Linked DNA regions of Homo sapiens. The protein of the gene in region 6 purifies or fractionates together with the protein of the main gene of each other region. This does not show direct contact. Each region holds a gene or a part of one and is shown on either strand. Other genes may lie near its edges.

Evidence for each region.
Region 1: the proteins of IDH3A (region 6) and ATP2B1 fractionate together in Homo sapiens (co-fractionation; one large-scale study listed by BioGRID). This does not show direct contact.
Region 2: the proteins of IDH3A (region 6) and QRICH1 fractionate together in Homo sapiens (co-fractionation; one large-scale study listed by BioGRID). This does not show direct contact.
Region 3: the proteins of IDH3A (region 6) and IPO9 fractionate together in Homo sapiens (co-fractionation; one large-scale study listed by BioGRID). This does not show direct contact.
Region 4: the proteins of IDH3A (region 6) and RDH13 purify together in Homo sapiens (affinity purification with mass spectrometry, with the first as the bait; one large-scale study listed by BioGRID). This does not show direct contact.
Region 5: the proteins of IDH3A (region 6) and ACO2 fractionate together in Homo sapiens (co-fractionation; one large-scale study listed by BioGRID). This does not show direct contact.

The regions. Positions count from the first base shown.
Region 1 is NC_000012.12:89,614,839-89,618,338, forward strand, and holds part of ATP2B1 (plasma membrane calcium-transporting ATPase 1), read right to left. Parts: intron 2,202-3,500; coding exon 1,964-2,201; intron 1-1,963. UniProt on the Homo sapiens protein: Catalyzes the hydrolysis of ATP coupled with the transport of calcium from the cytoplasm to the extracellular space thereby maintaining intracellular calcium homeostasis.
Region 2 is NC_000003.12:49,045,572-49,049,071, forward strand, and holds part of QRICH1 (transcriptional regulator QRICH1), read right to left. Parts: intron 1,676-3,500; coding exon 1,498-1,675; intron 1,009-1,497; coding exon 854-1,008; intron 1-853. UniProt on the Homo sapiens protein: Transcriptional regulator that acts as a mediator of the integrated stress response (ISR) through transcriptional control of protein homeostasis under conditions of ER stress.
Region 3 is NC_000001.11:201,870,657-201,874,156, reverse strand, and holds part of IPO9 (importin-9), read right to left. Parts: coding exon 3,299-3,500; intron 2,997-3,298; coding exon 2,830-2,996; intron 1,330-2,829; coding exon 1,196-1,329; intron 1-1,195. UniProt on the Homo sapiens protein: Nuclear transport receptor that mediates nuclear import of proteins, such as histones, proteasome and actin. Serves as receptor for nuclear localization signals (NLS) in cargo substrates.
Region 4 is NC_000019.10:55,056,649-55,060,148, reverse strand, and holds part of RDH13 (retinol dehydrogenase 13 isoform 1 precursor), read left to right. Parts: intron 1-873; coding exon 874-992; intron 993-3,340; coding exon 3,341-3,496; intron 3,497-3,500. UniProt on the Homo sapiens protein: Retinol dehydrogenase with a clear preference for NADP. Oxidizes all-trans-retinol, but seems to reduce all-trans-retinal with much higher efficiency. Has no activity toward steroids.
Region 5 is NC_000022.11:41,475,617-41,479,116, forward strand, and holds part of ACO2 (aconitate hydratase, mitochondrial precursor), read left to right. Parts: intron 1-3,500. UniProt on the Homo sapiens protein: Catalyzes the isomerization of citrate to isocitrate via cis-aconitate.
Region 6 is NC_000015.10:78,162,862-78,166,361, reverse strand, and holds part of IDH3A (isocitrate dehydrogenase [NAD] subunit alpha, mitochondrial precursor), read right to left. Parts: intron 2,856-3,500; coding exon 2,753-2,855; intron 2,647-2,752; coding exon 2,582-2,646; intron 1,371-2,581; coding exon 1,286-1,370; intron 213-1,285; coding exon 60-212; intron 1-59. UniProt on the Homo sapiens protein: Catalytic subunit of the enzyme which catalyzes the decarboxylation of isocitrate (ICT) into alpha-ketoglutarate.

The DNA.
Region 1 (3,500 bases), on a different chromosome or scaffold from region 6:
TTTCCATCTCCTATGCCACAACTGTGGGCCAAGCCATGATCATCTCTTGCCTGGGATCACTGCAATAATCTCATTAGCTTCCCTGCTTCTACTCTTCTTCATCTCTAATCCCTGTCTTACACGTACCCAAAATAGTATTTTAACAACATAAATCATGTCACTTCCCAGCCTGAATTTCAGAAAATTCAGAGTCCTCACAGCCCAGTAAGGCCAGAGATCATCTCGTCTCCCCTTTCTTCTTTACATTTATAGCCACACTGGCCTCTTTTCCACCTTTAAAATAGCTACTTTTCTCACTTTCACTTGCATTTCTCGTTTTGCTTGGAATGCTCTTCTTGCAGCTATTTACATGGCAGACCCACTATGAACCATCAGATTGCAACTCAAATGCCACATCCTCAGAAATTCTTAATGCAGTCTCTCTCCATTACTTTATTTCATTACACCGTGCATATCTTATATAGCCCTTCTGCACTTGTAATTGTCTTATTTAATATCATCCCCCCTGATATGCCACCCTGCCACCCAGAATATCTTAAGGCCTATGAGAACAGGGACCAAGTCTTATTCCTCCCAGAATTCATTTTTCACTTGACATGGTGTCCATGTATCTATCATTCTACCTACTTAGCTGTCTTCTTCCTCTAGAATATAAATCTCAAGCCTATTCTGGTCACTGCAGTATTTCCAGCTCCTAAAAGAGTGCTACACATTAGGTTTTGAATCAATTAGCTGATAAAGTCACTGAACAAAAGTGGTTTTCTGTTAGTGCTTTTATTTATGTTGCTTCTTTGCTCAGAATATACCTAACTGCTCGCTCTCTTTCTTGGTTTAGATAATACTTCCTCCTTCTTTAAGAATCAGATCAGGTAATTAACCTCTAGGAAGTCTTACCTGACCCCTCCAGTGGTCAATACAGTACAGTAGTCTTTTAAGCACATGTGTTTTAGACAAAGCTGGTATTTTAACACACTAGGTCTATGCTCTATACATTCTCGATTTTTTAAAAATGTATTTTTAAACATGTCTAACGCTCTATACATTTTTGATTCTTAAAAATCTGCCAAATAAGAGTAATAATATGCATACCTCATAAAGGTAGACATTTAAAAAAATTACTTGTAAAACACATGGCTTAAGTATATGGCACACAGTGAGAACTCAATAAAAAGATGCTATTAGGCTAGGTTGGGAACTCGTGTTCTCTGCTCATATAACATGCTCTGTATATACCCAGCAAGGTAGTAATATCTTGGGTTGCAATAATCACGTGTTTGGTTCGTCCCACATAAGACAGTAACTTCTTTGAGGCCGGTGATCAGATCTCAAAACTCTTAAGTCTCTAGTACCTTAGGATAGTGCCTGGCACACAGTAGTTGTTCAACAAACTTAAAAAAGGTGAAAAACCAAATAGCAAAAAAAAATTAAAGAGGGAAATCAGTCTAGAGCTGCATGCCATCCAATATGACAACTACTAGCAAGATATTTTAATTTGAATTAAATAAAATTTAAAAATCCTGTCTTTTAGTTGCACTAGCCACTGAAAACTAGAAGTCAGTATTCACACATGGCTAGTGGCTACTGTACTAAACAATATACAGAACATTCCTATTATCACAGAAAGCTCTACTAGACAATGCTAGTCTAGAGACTGTGAAAACAAATAATGGCACCTATTATTTAATTTAAGATAAATAATAACTGAAAATTCTACCCACTTCAAGGCACTGTGCTAGGTTATGGTGCTATGAACACATAGGATCCCAAAGAGACACTGTCTTTAAAAACCATAAAAGCTAGCATATGCACTGTAGGTACTATTATTTCATTTATCTTGGGTTCACACAGAAAAAAAAAAAATCACAAACACCAAGAATTTTACTAGAAAACTGGTTACAATTAAGGCCTAGGTCCTCTATAGTTATGAGATTCTGCACATGCAGAACACAGAATGTTTCACCACCTCAGGTCTCACAGGATCTTCAATCCCCACAACAGCAATGCATGTAAGGCCGGTGACAATATCATTTTCATTATCCCACTCTGGTTCTGGTTCTCCTGCTGGAAAATCTCTGAATGCAAGACATATGGTTCTCAAGCCTTCTGATGCCATCGGTTCAATCACAGTTTTTACAATATCATCACGGTCCCTTGGTCTGAATACTTTTGCCTCACCATTAGCACTCAAGATTTTGAAACACCTAAAAGGAAATGTTGAATCCAAACATCAATAATTTAAAAAAATAATGGTTAATGCCATTTAAGTGAACTGGCAGGCCTAGAAATCATGGGATCTGATATCTGGAATTTAGAGAATTACATATAATTCATTTTTATAGACTTAAATTCACTTTTCACCCTCCCTTTTACAAAACAGAACTAATATGTATGGTTCTCATTTGACAGTTCTCCATTTATCAATTACTCTAGAACTTCTCTAAACCTTGTCTTTTGGAAATGCAGTGCTTTCAAACTTTCATAAAGAATCCCTGGGTGGCAAAGGAGAATAAACTATATACTTCACCATTTTGGTACAGAATCAGACATTAGTTTGAAATAATACCAAAATCACAAATGTTTTCTTCTTTTAAGGTAAAAAGCCAAGCGTAGTCAACCCCTTACCTGAGATGTTGTTTCATCACCTATATTGTTTTAACCATGAAAGAAAAAAAATAACTTATTGTTAAAATAAGCATTCTATCAGAATGAGAGTTAATGCCAAAAGTTATTTTCAGTGACACTACTACCTTTTCTTTCATTACATAATGAATAAAAATCATACTATATACCTATTTAAAGTTTGTTTTTCATAATGCCTCTCTATACTCCTCTCCCTTGATGATGCCATCTCTTCCTGCTTCTAGGGAGGTAATTCCCAAATCCACATCTTCTGTTTTGTTTTTCAAAGCTTTCCATCACTGCTGAAAAATTCTACCCAGATGTTTTATCAGTACCTAAACCTTAATGGATGAAAGACTGGAAGCTGCCTCTTCACTGCCCATGTAATGTGCATCAACATTACCCTAATCATTTTGATGTAAGTCTAAAATTTCACCTTAATACTTATTTTTCCTGATCATCTCTCTACTATTAGCTCCTAAGTCCTATACATTTCTCCTCTGAACAGCCTCCTCAATGTGTCCACTCCTTTTTATTTCTCCTGCTACTACTTTCTTCTGGTTCTTACTTCAAGCTACAAAGCTACAGCTATTGTAATAGCAATAGCCTTTTAACTGATATGTCTCTAGTTGATTTTTTTTTTCCCTCTAACCCACCTTGTTCCCTGATGCAAGAATTATCTTTAATCACAGCTTTGATGATTCTACTACTTGAAGAAAAAAATACCTCATTTGCATTATCTGGCTTACTTCAATTTTAACTGCTCAGCCCAACATTTAAAAAGTCTCCACAACAAAATGCAAATATTACTGTGGGAACACTTGCTGTATGTTTACTGTCCACCAGGCTTCACACTAGACAGTTGGTATGCATTACTTCAT
Region 2 (3,500 bases), on a different chromosome or scaffold from region 6:
AGGTGTGTGCCACCACACCCAGCTAATTTTTTTTCTTTTCGTTTTTCAGACAGGGTCTCACTCTGTCACCCAGGCTGGAGTGTAGTGACATAATCATGACTCACTACAGCCCCAACCTCTGGGGCTCAAGCAATCCTCCCACCTCAGCCTCCCAAGTAGCTGGGACTACAGGCATGCATTACCATACCCAGCTAATTTTTTGTAGAGATGGGGTTTCACTATGTTGCCTAGGCTGGTCTCAAACTCCTGGGGCTCAAGCGATCCTCCTGCCTTGAGCCTCCCAAAGTGCTGGGATTACAGGTGTGAGACATCTTGCCTGGCTCTTATTTTTTTTCTTTTCTTTTCTTTTTTTTTTAATTTTTGAGACAGAGTCTCGCTCTGTCACCCAGACTGGAGTAAAATGCTGTGATCTCAGCTCATTGCAACCTCTACCTCCCGGGTTCAAGCGATTCTCATGCCTCAGCCTCCCAAATAGCAGGGATTATAGGCAGTGCACCACCACACCTGGCAAATTTTTCTATTTTTAGTGGATGGGGTTTCACCATGTTGGCTGGGCTGGTCGTCTTCAACTCCTGACCTCAAGTGATCCACCTGCCTCGGCCTCCCAAAGCGCTGGGATTACAGGCGTGAGCCACCAGCGCCCGGCCCCGGCTGTTATTTTCTAAAGTGAACGTGTAGGTTTTTAAAACTTAAAAAAAAAAAAAAAACAACAAATGTGTATTTTAAAACTCACTGTATACCTGAAAGAGAACTTCCTTATTTTAACTTCTTGCTTATCAATTTATTAACTAAACTAGCAAACATCCAATAGGAACACAGCTCAAACATGTTCTTGTGAAGATCTGTTTCCTACCTTTTGAATACACAGGAAAATATAGTAGAGCACATCTGGGTCATAGGGTTCACCTTCTCCATTTCGAGCTTCCCGTGTCATTAGACAGAGCCCATAATTCAACTCTGCCACAGCAGAGGAGATGAGATCTTCCTGGAATCGCAGCAGTTGGCGCCCTGCAACGGAAGCCTCAAAAATGAATGAAGGTCCTGGGGGTCCATATCTGGAAGGCTCAGAACAGATACTGCCCATCAGGGTGCTGGGATAGAAATGCTCACTTGTATCTACTAGAATGTTTCATGCCTGTAATGTCAGAACTGGCCTATAACATGAGTATATGAGCCTAATGCCAAGAAAGAAGGGCTTGAGTGCCTATCCCTGGTTCCCATTTCCTCCCAGAAGCCACTCTGCTTAGGTCTGGTAGGGTCAACTCCTGAAACCCGTATGTCTAAAAATGCCTGGTTTTGGGCAAACCCCACATATCCTGCTTATTATGTACACAAGGTCAGTACTGCTTGTTACTAGGCTTGAATTCAACATACTATTACAGATGTTGCTCTCTTGTCCCCAAGACAGGAGACACCACTTTTCTGGCATTTTGTCCTCCTGTTACTTTAGTACCATTGCATTTTAGACACAGCCCACTCTTCTTCCAAGACACTCACTCCCAATGGGTGCCAATCTGTTCTGAGCATCCTTCTCTAGTTCAGCATTCTTGGTCTGGGCCCAGTTTTTCCATACTTCAAGCCCTTCTTCTGGCTTCAAAGAATTTGGAAGCAGAAGTTCTGGGGAAGGCTGTGGCTGTGACTGTGGTTCAACTTCAGCAACCTGGACAGTTTGAGCCTATAGGAGAGAAACCATGAAAATGTGTCAATATTGTTTTATATTAGATCCTTCTGCAAAATTGCCAGAAAAATGTTATGTATAGTTCATTTATTTAAGAAAATATTTCTCTACTCATTGCTGTCCTACTTTTAAGAAGCTTTGGAGTTCTACCTCTTGCCCCAGGGACAGCAAAAGCAGCACTGCAACTGGGCTAGTGCAGTGCTTCTCAGCCTTGGCTGCACTTTTAAATGTTTTTTTTTTTTTTTTTTTTTGAGACGGAGTTTTCCTCTTGTTGCTCAGGCTGGAGTGCAATGGCGCAATCTCAGCTCACTGCACCCTCCGCCTCCCGGGTTCAAGTGAGTCTCCTGTCTCAGCCTCCCGAGTACCTGGGTTTACAGGCATGCACCAACACGGCCAGCTAATTTTATAATTTTAGTCGAGACGGAGTTTCGCCATGTTGGTCAGGCTGGTCTTGAACTCCCAACCTCAGGTAATCTGCCCGCCTCAGTCTCCCAAAGTGCTGGGATTACAGGCGTGAACCACTGTGCCCGGTCAAATCTTTTATTTAAAAACACTAATAGCCAGACTTACCCCAGAATCTCTCTGAGGGGGAGCCAAGGTATCAATTGTTTAAAAACTCCTTGAGTAAGATTGCACCACTGCACTCCAGCCTGGTGATAGAGCGAGACTCTGTCTCGAAAAAAGAAAAAAGAAAAAACAAAACAAAACAAAAAAACTCCTCAAGTAAAAAAGTAATTCTAATGTTTGGTCACCACTGAGAACTACTGGCTCAAAGCACTGCTCCCACAGTCTTTAATGTGCAAACAAATCACTTGGGGATTTTATCAAAATGCATATTCTGATTGAAAAGGGTAGGAACTGAGACAACATTTCTTTCTTTCTTTTTTTTTTTTTTGGCGGGGAAAGAGTTTCGCTCTTGTTCTTGGATGCTGGAGTGCAATGGCAGGATCTCGGCTCACCTCAACCTCTGTCTCCCGGGTTCAAGCTATTCTCCTGCCTCAGCCTCCCAAGTAGCTAGGATTACAGGCATGTGCCACCACGCCCGGCTAATTTTGTATTTTTAGTAGAGATGGGGTTTCTCCATGTTGGTCAGGCTGGTCTTGACTCCCATCTTCAGGTGATCCGCCCTCCTCAGCCTCCCAAAGTGCTGGGACTACAGGCTTGGGCCATCGGCCGAGAGCACTGATTCTTAAACTGGGTCTCACCTTGAAATCATCTGGATTGCTTTAAAAAAAAAAAAAAAAAAAAACCCACCCTGGCCGGGTGCAGTGGCTCACACCTGTAGTCCCAGCACTTTGGGAGGCCGAGGTGGGTGGATCACGAGGTCAAGAGACTGAGACCATCCTGGCTAACACGGTGAAACCCCATCTCTACTAAAATACAAAAAAATCAGCCGGGTGTGGTGGCGGGCGCCTGTAGTCCCAGCTACTCAGGAGGCTGAGGCAGGAGAATGGCATGAATCCAGGAGGCGGAGCTTGCAGTGAGCCGAGATCGCACCACTGTACTCCAGCCTGGGTAACAGAGTGAGACTCTGTTCACAAAAAAAAAAACCAAAAAAAAAAAAAAAGAAAGAAACCTCACACTTGGGCCTTATCTCCAGCCATTGTAAGGTAGAGGCACATTGTCAGTATTTTTAAAAGCTTCCCATGTGATTTTTTTTTTTTCCCTCTGAGATGGAGTCTTGCTCTTTCGCCTAGGCTGGAGTGCAGTGGCACGATCTCGGCTCACTGCAACCTTCACCTCCCAGGTTCAAACGATTCTCCTTTCTCAGCCTCCCGAGTAGCTAGGATTACAGATATGCACCACCATGCCCAACTAATTT
Region 3 (3,500 bases), on a different chromosome or scaffold from region 6:
CACCACCCCTCAGACTTTCACTGTACCTGACTATATCCAGTCTCCAAAGAGTGACTTAAAGTTAAATAACTTTATTGTTTGGTATTGTAACAGTTCAGAAGCTGGGAGAGATGAGAGTTCAGGGATTAAAGGAGATACAGTCTTGTTAGTAATAAAGCTCTGAAACCAAGGAACTGTATAGAGCCAGTACTCCAGTCCCAATGACTTAGAATTTGAGAGACAGCGGAGGTAATTATAAATCTACATTAAAGATAGCAGCTCTATACTCCCTACCTGCAAATCATTGGAGTTACAGGCCAAAGGCAACTCAGTAACAAAGACATGCTGACTATCTGTGCCCACGCTTCTGAATGAAGCTGGAAGCTGGGATGCTTGGTGCCTGAGACTATTTTTGTCTTTTTTTTTTCTTCAGACAGAGTTTTGCTCTTATTGCCCAGGCTGGAGTGCAATGGCGTGATCTTGGCTCACTGCAACCTCCACCTCCCGGGTTCAAGCGATTCTCCTGCCTCAGCCTCCCGAGTAGCTGGGATTACAGGCATGCGCCACCATGCCTGGCTAACTTTGTATTTTTGGTAGAGACGGGGTTTCTCTATGTTGGTCAGGCTGGTCTCGAACTCCCGGCCTCAGGCGATCCACCCACCTCGGCCTCCCAAAGTGCTGGGATTACAGGTGTGAGCCACCACGCCTGCATTTTTTTTTTTTTTTTTTTTTTGAGACGGAGTCTCATTTTGTTGTCCAGGCTGGAATGCAGTGGCACGATCTTTGCTCACCGCAACCTCTGCCTCCCAGGTTCAAGCGATTCTCCTGCCTCAGCCTCCCAAGTAGCTGGGATTACAGGCGCCCACCACCATGCCTGGCTAATTTTTGTATTTTTAGTAAAGACGGGATTTCACCATGTTGGTCAGGCTAGTCTCAAACTCCTGACTTCAAGTGATCCATCCGCTCTGGCCTCCCACCAAGTGCTGGGATTACAGGCGTGAGCCACCATGCCCGGCCTATTTTTGTCCATTTTCCACAACAGGAAGAAACCGTATGTTCTGATCCCTTTTACCTAAGTTTCCTGCTTCTTCTTTATCAAACCCATCACCAACAATTGTTTTAAAAATATACACCACAGTGCATTCCTTCCCTTCACCCAGGTATCCTTAGCCCCTTCGTATAGGGAGAGGATTGGAAGAATCGCAGCAGCACCCACTTTTGGCTGACTTAGAGCGGGTGCGGATGCCCTCATCCATGCTGTAGATCTCCTCTCCCTTCACACGGATATCCTGTAGCCGTTTGTCATCTGCATTGATGCCATGCTGGAGCAGCTTACAGAGTGCCACAGAGCTGGCAAGGAAGATCCAAAAAAAGGTCAATCAGCCGCCCATCTCGAGTTCACTCCAAGGAGATAAGCAATTATGTCCTAAGACCCTCTATTTGATAGTGAAAATTCCGTTAACAACTAATTAGGAGAGCTAAGAGAGTTCAGCTGAAAATGAGATTTTAGAGTTCATGAGGTGGTTTAATGAGATCTGTGCTTTTTTGTTGTTGTTGTTGTTGTTGTTGTTTTTGAGATAGGGTCTCATTCTGTCACCCAGGCTGAGTGCAGTGGTGTGATCATGGTTCACTGCAGCCTTGACCTCCCTGGGTTCAGGTGATCCTCCCACCTCAGCCTCCCAAGTAGCTGGGACTATAGGCATGCGCCACCGTGCCTGGCTAATTTTTGTATTTTTTTGGTAGACACAGGTTTCACCATGTTGCCCGGGTGGGTCTCAAGCAATTCGCCCACCTCAGTCTTCCAAAGTGCCGGGATTACAGGTGACCTGTTCTTCTTGAACAAAGCTAAGGTTGCACCATATTGTAAGGTGCAACGAGGTGATAAGAATCAGTGGTATAAAAATCCAGGATAAAAAGTTAGGAAGCCAGGGTTAGAAGGTTGGGTTTTTTATTTTTATTTTTCTGAGACAATTTCGCTCGTCGCCCAGGCTGAAGTGCAATGGCGTGATCTGCCTCCTTGGTTCAAGCGATTCTCCTGCCTTAGCCTCCCGAGTAGCTGGGATTACAGGCACCCACAACCACATCCAGCTATTTTTTGTATTTATAGTAGAGACAGTGTTTCACCATGTTTGCCAGGCTGGTCTTGAACTCCTGACCTCCGGTGATCTGCTCGCCTCAGCCTCCTAAAGTGCTGGGATTATAGGTGTGAGCCACTGTGCCTGGCCAAGGCTTGGGCTTATAAAGGAAAATAAGCCACTAGCAGCACTTAGCTGTGTGAAGTCTGTGGTAGAGAAGGGATCTCTTGTAAACAGAGACCAGAAATATATAGTCTACCTGTGTTGACTGTCTTTTGGGGATTTCAAGATGGCAGCTATTCACATATGTGCGTTAGCAATAAAGAAAGACAGGGAAAAGGGAATACAGAGAGCCATTTGAAATGTCAAACAAAAATCAATGGAGCAAATCAGGAAAAAAAAGAAATATGTGTCAGGAGCAGTGGCTCACACCTGTAATCCCAGCACTGTGGGAGGCCGAAGTGGGTGGATCACTTGAGGTCAGGAGTTCAAGACCAGCCTGGCCAACATGGTGAAACCCTCTCTCTACTAAAAACACACACACAAAGAATTCACTGGGTATGGTGGTGCATGTGTGTAATATTCGGACGGCTGAGGCAGGAGCAGGAGAATTGCTTGAACCTAGGAGGTGGAGGTTGCAGTGAGCCAAGATTGTGCCACTGCACTCCAGCCTGGGCGACAGAGCGAGACTGTCTCAAAAAAAAAAAAAAAAAAAAAAAAAAAAAAGAAATATGAGTGGTGGCAGAATGCCCAGAAAAGAAAGATGAGGTTCTACCTGACTTTGCCTTCATACTGTCCATAGAACAGGTGCTGTCGGCTTGTCCACTCAGCCATCACAAACTCTAGAGCAGGTTTGCCAGTAGGTCCTGGGAGGCTACACAGGAACTCCAAGAGAGGTTCTAGCTGAGTGTGCACCAGATGAGCGAACACCATGATCAGGGACTAGGAGAAAATAAGGACATTTGCTTCAGGGAAATCAATTTCAGAGACATAGGAGATGAGAGGGAACTGGCCAGTCAGATAAGAAATACAGTCTACACTGAGGGTATTATCCACAGGACAAGAAAACATGGGAGATTTCCTTGTCCATGTTTCTTAGGCCAAACAGATCAGACAGGTCCCATTTTACTTAACTGTCCTACAAGGCTAGTAAGAGGGTAAAATAAAATAACTCAGGACCAAAATACGAATTTTCATTTCTATCAGCCAGGGAGTAGGAAGCCCACTCCCCACTGCTCTCTTACCTGCATGACACTGAGCGTCTCTGCCTGCTGCATCTTACTGAGGATGGCACGAAGAATCTGGTCTAGATTCTCCCCGAGTTCCCGCCCTGCCTTGGAGATGAGGGTGGAAACAAGGCGGCCCACAAAGGCCGCAGTGAACTCTGAGGTGCGGGGGTCCAGGAGCTGGCTCACCACTTGCATCACATACCACAGTCCATTGTGG
Region 4 (3,500 bases), on a different chromosome or scaffold from region 6:
ACCAATCCACCTCAGCACAGACCCTTTACGGGTGTTGGGCTGGGGGACGGTCAGGTCTTTCTCATCCCACGAGGCCATATTTCAGACTATCCCACGGGGAGAAACCTTGGACAATACTCTGTGTTCAAGGGCAGAGGTCCCTGCAGCTTTCTGCAGTGCATCGTGCCCCTGGTTTATTGAGACTAGAGACTGGCGATGACTTTTACCAAGTATACTGCTTGGAAACATTGTGTTAACAAGGCACTTCCTGCACAGCCCTAGATCCCTTAAACCTTGATTTCATACAACACAGGTTTTTGTGAGCTCCAGATTGGGTCAAAGTGGCTGGGTCAAAGCTACAAATTAACAACATCTCAGCAAAGCAATTGTTCAAAGTACAGGTCTTTTTCAAAATGGAGTCTCTTATGTCTTTCCTTTCTATATAGACACAGTAACAGTCTAATCTCTCTTTTCCCTACACATCTGGCTAATTTTTGTATTTTAAGTAGAGACGGGGTCTCGCCATGTTTGCCAGGCTGGACTCGAACTCCTGACCTCAAGTGATCCGCCCCCGCCCCCCCCCACCCCCAAAACTTTGGCCTCCCAAAGTGCTGGGATTACAGGTGCAAGCCCCCTCACCTGGCCGGGAATCTCATGCAGTGAGCATTTATAAAATAATGACTGTCACTTGCTGAAGGCGTTCCACACGCCAGACACTGGGTGGAGCCACTTATGGAGAACATGACAGAGGTCCCTTGGTGTGATGTGATGATGTCTGTGTTTCAGTTGGGGTATGTGAGTGAGCTCAGACAAGGTTGCCTGAGATCATTCAGTCAGGGGCACGTGGGGTGAGAGTGGGCCCACAGGACTGACCGTGCCGCTTCTCACCCTCAGGGACTATGTCACCGGTGGGGCTTGCCCCAGCAAGGCCACCATCCCTGGGAAGACGGTCATCGTGACGGGTGCCAACACAGGCATCGGGAAGCAGACCGCCTTGGAACTGGCCAGGAGAGGTAAAATCTCCCCTGCTTTGGCTCTCAGAGAGATATCTGTACATCCATGCTCACTGCAGCATTATTCACAGTCCGGAGGTGGAAGGAACCCAGGCACCCATCCACAGATGAACAGGGAAACAGAATGTGGCTTCTATAGACAGGGGCATATGATTCAGCCTTAAAAAGGAAGGGCATTCTGGCCGGGCGCGGTGGTGCACGCCTGTAATCAGTACTTTGGGAGGCCAAAGCTGGCGGATCACGAGGTCAGGAGTTCGAGACCAGCCTAACCAACATGGTGAAACCCCCTCTCTACTAAAAATACAAAAATTAGCCAGGAGTTGTGGTGGGCACCTGTAGTCCCAGCTGCTTGGGAGGCTGAAGCAGGAGAATCGCTTGAACCTGAGAGGCAGGGGTTGCAGTGAGCAGAGATGGCGCCACGGCACTCCAGCCTGGGTGACAGAGTGAGACTCAAAAACAAAACAAAACAAAGCAAAACAAAAAAAAGGGCATTGAAACAGATGAACCTTGAGGACATTCCATGAAGTGAAATAAGCCAGTCGACAGAAGAGCAAATACGGTATGATTCCACTTACAGGAGCTACCTACAGTTAAATTCATAGAGAAGTTGGAATGGTGCTTGCCAGGGGTCAGGAGGGGAGGGGAGAATGGGGAGTTACTGTTTAATGGAAACGGAAGTTTAGTTTGGCAAGATGAAACAATTTGAGAGATGGATGGTTGTAATGGTTGCACAACATTAGGAATTATTATTATTGTTTTTTTTTTTTTGAGATGGAGTTTTGCTCTTGTCGCCCAGGCTGGAGTGCAGTGGCATGATCTTGGCTCACTGCAACCTTCGCCTCCCGGGTTCAAGCAATTCTCCTGCCTCAGCCACCCGAGTAGCTGGGATTACAGGCATGCAACACCACACCCAGCTAAGTTTGTAATGTGTTGGCCAGGCTGGTCTTGAACTCCTGACCTCAGGTGATCCACCTGCCTTGGTCTCCCAAAGTGCTGGGATTACAGGTGTGAGCCACCATGCCCGGCCCAGCCATAAATGTTTTTAATACCAATGAACTGGACACTTAAAAATGGCTAAGAGGGCGGGTCTCGGTGGCTCACATCTATAATTCCAGCACTTTTGGAGGCTGAGGCAGGAGGATCACTTGAGGCCAGGGGTTCCAGACCAGCCTGGACACCATAGCAACACCCCCATCTCTACCAGAGTTAGCCAGGCATGCTGGCACAGGTGGTACCTATAGTCCCAGGTCACTTGAGCCTAGGAGTTCAAGGCTGAATGAGCTGTGATGGCGCCAGCACTCCAGCCGCGGCAGCAGAGTGAGACTGACTCAAAAAAAAAAAAATAATAATAAACAAAAAGAAAAGGGGGTTAAGATGATAAATTTTAAGTGATTTGTATTTTACCACAACAAAAAAAATTGGAGGCTGGGCATTGTGGCTTATTTGTAATCCCAGTACTTTGGGAGGCCGCGGGGTGGATCACCTGAGGTCAGAAGTTCAAGACTAGCTTGGCTAACATGGTGAAACCGCTGTCTCTACTAAAAATAAAAAAATAAAAAATTAGCTAGTTGTGGTAGGTGCCTGTAATCCCAGCTACTCGGGAGGCTGAGGCAGGAGAATTGCTTGAACCCAGGAGGTGGAGGTTGCAGTGAGCCGAGATTGCGCCACCGCACTCCAGCCTGGGTGACAGAGTGAGACTCCATCTAAAAAAAAAAAAAAAAGGAGAGGATGGGGAATCCTCTTGCCTTGGCCTCCCAAAGTGCTGGAATTACAGGTGTGAGCCACCGTGCCCGACCAATTCAGTGATGTTTAGTATAGTCACAGAATGATGCAACCATCTTTAAAATCAATCTTAGAACATCTGTTACCCTAGAAAGAAACCTGCTCACTGTAACTATCAAGCTGTAATTCCCTCTCCCCACCCCCTGCCCTAGAAAACCAAGAATCTATTTTCTTTCTCTATGGATTTGCCTATTCTGGGCGTTTCATAGGTGTGAAATCATATACATAGAATTCATGTAAATGGGATTGTACGCTGTGTGGTCTTTCGTGTCTGGTTTCTTTCCCCGAGCACAGTGTTTCTGACGGTCATCCTTGCTGTAGCATGAGCCAGTGCTTCACTCCTTTTCACGGCCGTCTAATATTCCATCTCTATGGATGGACCACATTTTGTTGTCCCTTCATCCACAGATGGGCATTTGGTTGTTTCTACCTTTTGGCTTTTGTGAAGAATGCCGCAGTGAACATTGGTGGATGTGTTTTTGTGTAGACGTATGTTTTCATGTCTCTGGGGTCAGTACCCAGGAGTGGATTATTAATTTAAATCTTTTTCCATCCTGGGTTTTCAGGAGGCAACATCATCCTGGCCTGCCGAGACATGGAGAAGTGTGAGGCGGCAGCAAAGGACATCCGCGGGGAGACCCTCAATCACCATGTCAACGCCCGGCACCTGGACTTGGCTTCCCTCAAGTCTATCCGAGAGTTTGCAGCAAAGATCATTGAAGGTAG
Region 5 (3,500 bases), on a different chromosome or scaffold from region 6:
GGACGTGGTGGCTCACGCCTGTAATCCCAGCACTTTGGGAGGCTGAGGTGGGTGGATCACAAGCTCAGGAGTTCGAGACCAGCCTGGCCAATATGGTGAAACCCCATCTTTACTAAAAATACAAAAAAAAAATTAGCCAGTCGTGGTGGCGCATGCCTGTGATCCCAGCTACTCAGGAGGCTGAGGCAGGAGAATCAGCTGAACCCAGGAGGTGGAGGTTGCAGTGAGCCGAGATCGCGCCACTGCACTCCAGCCTGGGCAACAGGGTGAAACTCTGTCTCAAAAAAAAAAAAAAAAGCAGCAGATGGACCCTCAGGAGCCTTAGGAGACTTCTGCCACTGGCTTACTGGGTAGCTTCGGGCAAAGTCTCAACTCTCTGTGGTCCTGCAGTTAGTTACACATCTGCAAAACAGTGTAATTAATAACTACCCTTCAGTTAAGAAGGGTTCTGAAGGCCTAATATTTGAAAAGTTGTTTTGACTCTGTTTGATGTGTTATAAAGCATTGTGAGCCGGGTGTGGTGCCTCATGCCTGTAATCCCAGCACTTTGGGAGCCCAAGGCAGGTGGATCACCTGAGGTCAGGAGCTCAAGACCAGCCTGACCAACATGGTGAAACCCCGTCTGTACTTAAAATACAAAATTAGTCAGGTGTGGTGGCGCATGCCTGTAATCTCAGTTACTTTGTGGGCTAAGACAGGAGAATCGTTTGAACCTGGGAGGCGGAGGTTGTACTGAGTTAAGATTGTGCCATTGCACTCCAGCCTGGGCAACAAGAATGAAACTCTGTCTTAAAAAAAAAAAAAAAAAAGGCCAGACGCAGTGGCTCACACCTGTAATCCCAGCATTTTGGGAGGCCAAGGCAGGCAGATCACCTGAGGTCAGGAGTTTGAGACCAGCCTGACCAACATGGTGAAACTCCATCTCTACTAAAAATAGAAAAAAATTAGCTGGGTGTGTGGGTGGTCGCCTGTAGACCCAGCTACTCGGGAGGCTGAGGTACGAGAATCGCTTGAACCTGGGAGGCAGAGCTTGCAATGAGCCGAGATTGCGCCACTGTACTCCAGCTTGGGCAACAGAGCGAGACTCTGTCTCAAAAACAAAACAAAACAAAAAAACAAAAAAACACACACACTGCAAATAGTTTCTGATATTATTTTAGGAATAGGCCATTTCTAAGATTGAGAGTAGGGACAGATTTTCCCCTTGTAGAATATCTTCATTTTGGAAGTCTTGAAAGGTAGGGAGAATGGGCCAGGCATGGTAGCTCACGGCTGTAATCCCAGGACTTTGGGAGGCCGAGGTGGGTGGATCACTTGGGGTCAGGAGTTCAAGACCAGCCTGGCCAACATGGTGAAACTCTGTCTCTACTAAAATACAAAAAATTAACTGGGCATGGTGGCGTGTACCTGTAATCCCATTTACTTGGGAGACTGAGGCAGGAGAATCAGGTTCAAGCGAGTCTCCTGCCTCAGCCTCCCAAGTAAATTAAAGGTAGGGAGAATGGTTTCCATATTATTTATTTATTTATTTATTTATTTATTTATTTATTTTTTTGAGACGGAGTCTGGCTCTGTCTCCCAGGCTGGAGTGCAGTGGCGCGATCTCCACTCAGTTCAAGCTCCGCCTCCCGGGTTCACGCCATTCTCCTGCCTCAGCCTCCTGCGTAGCTGGGACTACAGGCACCCGCCACCACGCCCAGCTAATTTTTTGTATTTTTTTTTTTAGTAGAGATGGGGTTTCACGGTGTTAGCCAGGATGGTCTCAATCTCCTGACCTTGTGATCCACCTGCCTCGGCCTCCCAAAGTGCTGGGATTACAGGCGTGAGCCACCGCACCCGACCTCTTTAGTTTTATTCTGCAGCACCTGGGCCAGAGGAAGGGGCACCAGCTTTGGAGCCAGGCCTGGAATTCCACCTTGCTGCGTGACCCTGGGCAAAACAGTTAGCATTCCAGAGCTTCAGTTTCCTCATCCATTAAATGGGCACAATGCCTTCTGCCTCACAGGGTAGTCGTGGGATTGTGTGGATAAAGTACTTGGGGCAAATCCAGTGCAGGGTAGAGGCACTTGGTGAATATTCATTTCTGTCTCCAGCCCCTGCAGATGGCCCGCGGCATCCATCACCCCAGCCTTTATCCTTAGCTCATACGTTTAAAAAAGACCAGTTGTGGCCGGGCACAGTGGCTCACGCCTGTAATCCCAGCACTTTGGGAGGCCGAGATGGGTGGATCACGAGGTCAGGAGTTTGAGAACAGTGTGGCCAATGTAGTGAAACCCCGTCTCTACTAAAAATACAGATATGAGCCGGGCATGGTGGTGTGCGCCTGTAGTCCCAGCTACTTGGGAGGCTGAGGCAGAAGAATCGCTTGAACTCAGGAAGCAGAGGATGCAGTGAGCCGAGATCACGCTGCTGCACTCCAGCCTGGGCAACAGAGCGAGACTCTGTCTCAAAAAAAAAACCAAACCAGTTGTGAAAATTGCTTGTTCCTCCCATCATCTCCCCAGATAGCAGGTAAGTGGTAGTTGTTCAAGGAAACCTTTTTTTCAAGATAGAGTCTCGCTCTGTTGCTCAGTCTGGATGCAGTGGCATGATCTCACTGCAACCTCCACCTCCTGGGTTCAAGCAGTTCTTTTGCCCCAGCCTCCCAAGTAGCTGGGATCACAGGCACGCACCACCATGCCCAGCTAATTTTTGTATTTTTTGTTTTAGTAGAGACAGGGTCTCACCCTGTTGGCAAAGCTGGTCTCCAACTCCTGACCTCAAGTGGTCCAGCTGCCCCAGCTTCCCAAAATATTGAGATTACAGGCGTGAGCCACTGCGCCTGGCCAAGAAAACCCTTTCAATACTGTTTTAAAAGAGTTGGGGGAAGAGGTAGAAATGAATCTTTTGGTTTAGTTTTTTAATTCTCTAAGGACAACATTGGGGAAGTGAGCTTTAGAGTTATATTTGCAGTATTTATTTTTATCATGAAATATTCAAGTCTAGGCCCTTGGTGAATTGAGGCCTGGTGAGTATTTCTGCTTTCCCCCTGGAGAGATTGAGATGGTTTCTGATTGGGAGCTTTAATTCTGTGGGCATTTGTGGGACTTACCAAAGAGGTATCTAGAGTTCCTTTAAAACCCCCGCCCTGTCCCTGCCACATATCTTCTTTTTTTTTTTTTTTTTTTTGAGAAGGAGTCTCACTCTGTAGCCCAAGCTGGAGTGCAGTGAGTGACACGATCTCTGCTCACTGCAACCTTTGCCTCTGGGGCTCAAGCAATTCTCCTGCCTCAGCCTCCCAAGTAGCTGGGACCAGAGGCATGCGCCACCACACCTGGTTAATTTTCTTGTATGCCACACTTCTTTAGTTCCTTGTAGCCGGGCTCCTTGACCTTCTGCAGGGCATCTGTGGTTGTGGTATTTATAAGCACTCACTGTGTCATGAGTGTGTTCACAGAGCTCTAAGACAAGGGCCCTGTCTGTGGAAGAGCTTTTAGGGTGGTGAGGGAGAAGTCATCTAA
Region 6 (3,500 bases):
ATAAAACACATGGAAGCAATGCATTTTACCCAGCACAAGTAAATCAAGATTCCTGTTACCTTTCCGTCCTTAATTGTAGCAAAACACGCAGCCTCAATTCTTGCAGCATGGTCAAAAAGTCCCATGTGGCGCAGCATCATCACGGCACTGAGCAGGAGGGCTGTGGGATTCGCCATGTCCTTGCCTGCAATGTCTGGAGCCGTCCCATGAACCTACACATCGGGAAAAGTAGCATCATCAAGGGAGAGACAAAAACTAACAGTCCTCTTCTGGGGAAGCTGGAGTCTTAACCATCTTTCCTCAGCAATACAAAATATGCACTGAAAGCTACTGCGTGCAATTCATCTGATATGGACTGAAGAAATAAAGTCTGGGTTGGGCGTGATAGCTCACACCTGTAATCGCAACACGTTGATAGGCCAAGGCAAGAAGATCACTTGAGGCCAGGAGTTCAAGACCAGCCTGGGCAACATAGTGAGACCCCATTTCTACAAAAAAATTAGCAATTAGCCAGGCATGGTGGTGCCTGACTACAGTGCCAGCTACTTGGGAGGCTGAGGCAGGAGGATTGCTTAAGCCTAGCAGTTCAAGCCTGCAGTGAGCTATGATCACACCAGTGTACTCCAGCCTGGGTGACAGAACAAGGCCCTAGCTCAAAAATAAATAAATAAATAAATAAAGACTTGGAGAAATAAAGAGCTAAAGTAATTTTTTTAAGTATAAAAATATGGACCAACAATCTTTTTCAGTCAATTTTTGGTAAAATATTTTAAGGAAGGAAGGATACATAATAAATACCTGGAGGGAAATGAAGAGATAAACCAAACATATATATATGTTTATATATGGGTGTATATAAAAACAAACATAGGCTGGGTGCAATGGCTCACACCTGTAATCCCAGCAACTTTGGGAGGCCAAGGCGGATGGATCATCTGAGATCAGGAGTTCAAGAACAGCCTGGCCAACATGGTGAAACCCCATCTCTACTAAAATACAAAAATTAGCCAGGTGTGGTGGCTCACACCTGTAATCCCAGCTACTTGAGAGGCTGAGGCAGGAGAATCACTTGAACCTGGGAGGCAGAGGTTGCAGTGAGCCAAGATCGCACCACTGTACTCCAGCGTGGGTGACAGAGCGAGACTCCGTCTCGAGAAAAAAAAAAAGCATCATTTTGTTTTGACAATTTGAAAAACTGGAGTTAAAGCATACTTATACAGATAACTCCTCCTGAGTTCACACGCTGTTCTGACCTGAGTTCTGTTTCAGGTGTCAGGGTCCTTACCGACTCAAAAATTGCAACCCCATTGGCTCCAATGTTGCCACTTGGTGTCACACCGAGACCTCCGATCAATCCTGCACACAAGTCACTAGCGGAAGAAAAGCATTTCAAAGAATGTTTTTAAAAATAAAACATCTCACCTAGCACCCAGATTTTAGTTTTTAATTATCATTCTCCACTAAAAGGAAGTAGCATTCCTTGGATAAATGGCTGATTCCAGGGCAAAGGTTAGGAAAATACAGATGAGCCTCGAGCATCTTACTGTGTCAGAAAGCAAGGCAAGGCTCAAAGAACAAAGGGCCGTGTCTAAAGGACACAGAAGACATGGTGAAGGGACCCCCATCAGCCAAGTTAGGACAACCTATGCATCAATATTCATGATTATGATGATGGATATATCACTGAATAAAACAGAAAACCATGTCCACAGCTGGGCTCAGTGGCTCATGCCTGTAATCCCAGCACTTTGGGAGGCCAAGGTGGGCAGATCACTTGAGGTCAGGAGTTCCAGACCAGCCTGGCCAACATGGCGAAACCCCGTCCCTACTAAAAATACAAAAATTAGCCAGGTGTGGTGGTGTGCACCTGTAATAATACCAACTACTCAGGGGAGGCAGGAGAATCACTCGAACCTGGGAGGTAGAGGTTGCAGTGAGCCGAGATTGTGCCACTGCACTCCAGCCTAGGCGACAGAGCAAGACTCTGCCTCAAAAAAAAAAAAAAAATGAAAATCACCATTTGGCCAACATCTTATGTCTGTGTGTGTCGGGGGGGGAGAGAGAGAGAGAGAGAAGCACAGACAAAGGAGAGGAGGAAGAGGAAGGGAGGGAAAGTGGGAAGGAGTAATAAAGTAAATGTGATAAAATGCTGACATCTGGAGAATGTGGAATCAGGGTGCTGAGTACAAGGGAATTCTTTGTACTATTCTTACAACTTTTCTGTAAGTCTGAAATTATGTCAAAAGTTACCAAAAAATAGTAACAATGACCACCCACCTACCTAGCTATACATAACAAAACCTTAAAATCAATCAATCAATCAAACATTTAAAAACTGGGAAGAGTGACCTAATAATGATTAGGGAGAAAGAGCCCAGCAATGATTTGGCAAATCAATGAAGGAACAAGCCACCCAACATGTAATCATTCATATCACAACCTGAACTGTTAGAATTCAATTCATATGTTACAACAAATACTCTATTTCACAATACTCAATTGAAAATGTTAAGCCATAATTATTTTAGGATGTTTATAAGTAAATCATAGGCTAAAATAAATAGGTTGCAGCCAGACTCACCTAAGGATGTCTCCATACAAATTTGGCATAACAAGAACATCAAATTGGGAAGGATCTTGTACCATCTACAAGGAATACATTTGTGCATTTAGTAATCAAAATCTGCATCCCCACAACACACAGACACCATTCACCATAAAAAGTAGCAGGTAAGTGTGAATATATACTTACATTCAAACATACTGTATCAAGGTACATCTCATTAAATTTAATATCTTTACAGCTTTCTGCAACTTCCCTGCATTTTTGTAGAAAAAGCCCATCTGACATCCGCCTGTATTTAATCAAATAAAAACTGCTGAAAAAAAAGTCTTACAGAAAGAAAAGAATCAAATCAAAGAAGTAAAGTAAGTTCAAGACATTTAAGTTCCAGAAGCCAAGCTACCTGATCCCAATTACAATAAAATTATTTCTTAGGTAGTTAATAAAATATAAGCTGAAAATGTTTTAGGATCCTTCTGAAAGTATAAAAGAGTAAAAATGTAAAATAGTTTGATCATAACAGAGAAGACTATATTTTTATAGTGTTATCTAACAAGAATGAAGAAATACCCACTAATATTATTAAAATTGCTTTAAAAGGTTAACATAGTAATTTAAATAGTTTTACTATTTTGCATGTTCAATGCTTTTCTTAGGTTAGGAAAACTGTTAATATATTCAGAGGACTTTAACAGCCTCTGGATGAGAATTTAAGTTGCTGGAGTAACACATCAGGTATTGTTAGCACTACTTTAAGCCTCCCACTATTCCACTTCTAAAACGTACGCTATGTGGCCTCTGCTGATGGCCACAGCATCTGGGGACCCCGAGGCTCCAATTTCCTTTCCTGATAACCCTCAGTCCTTCCTTGAGCTTCCAGGACCTGAATCACCATCCCCTCCTCATTTGCTCCTGTCATTCGCCCAGGGAGGCGCAG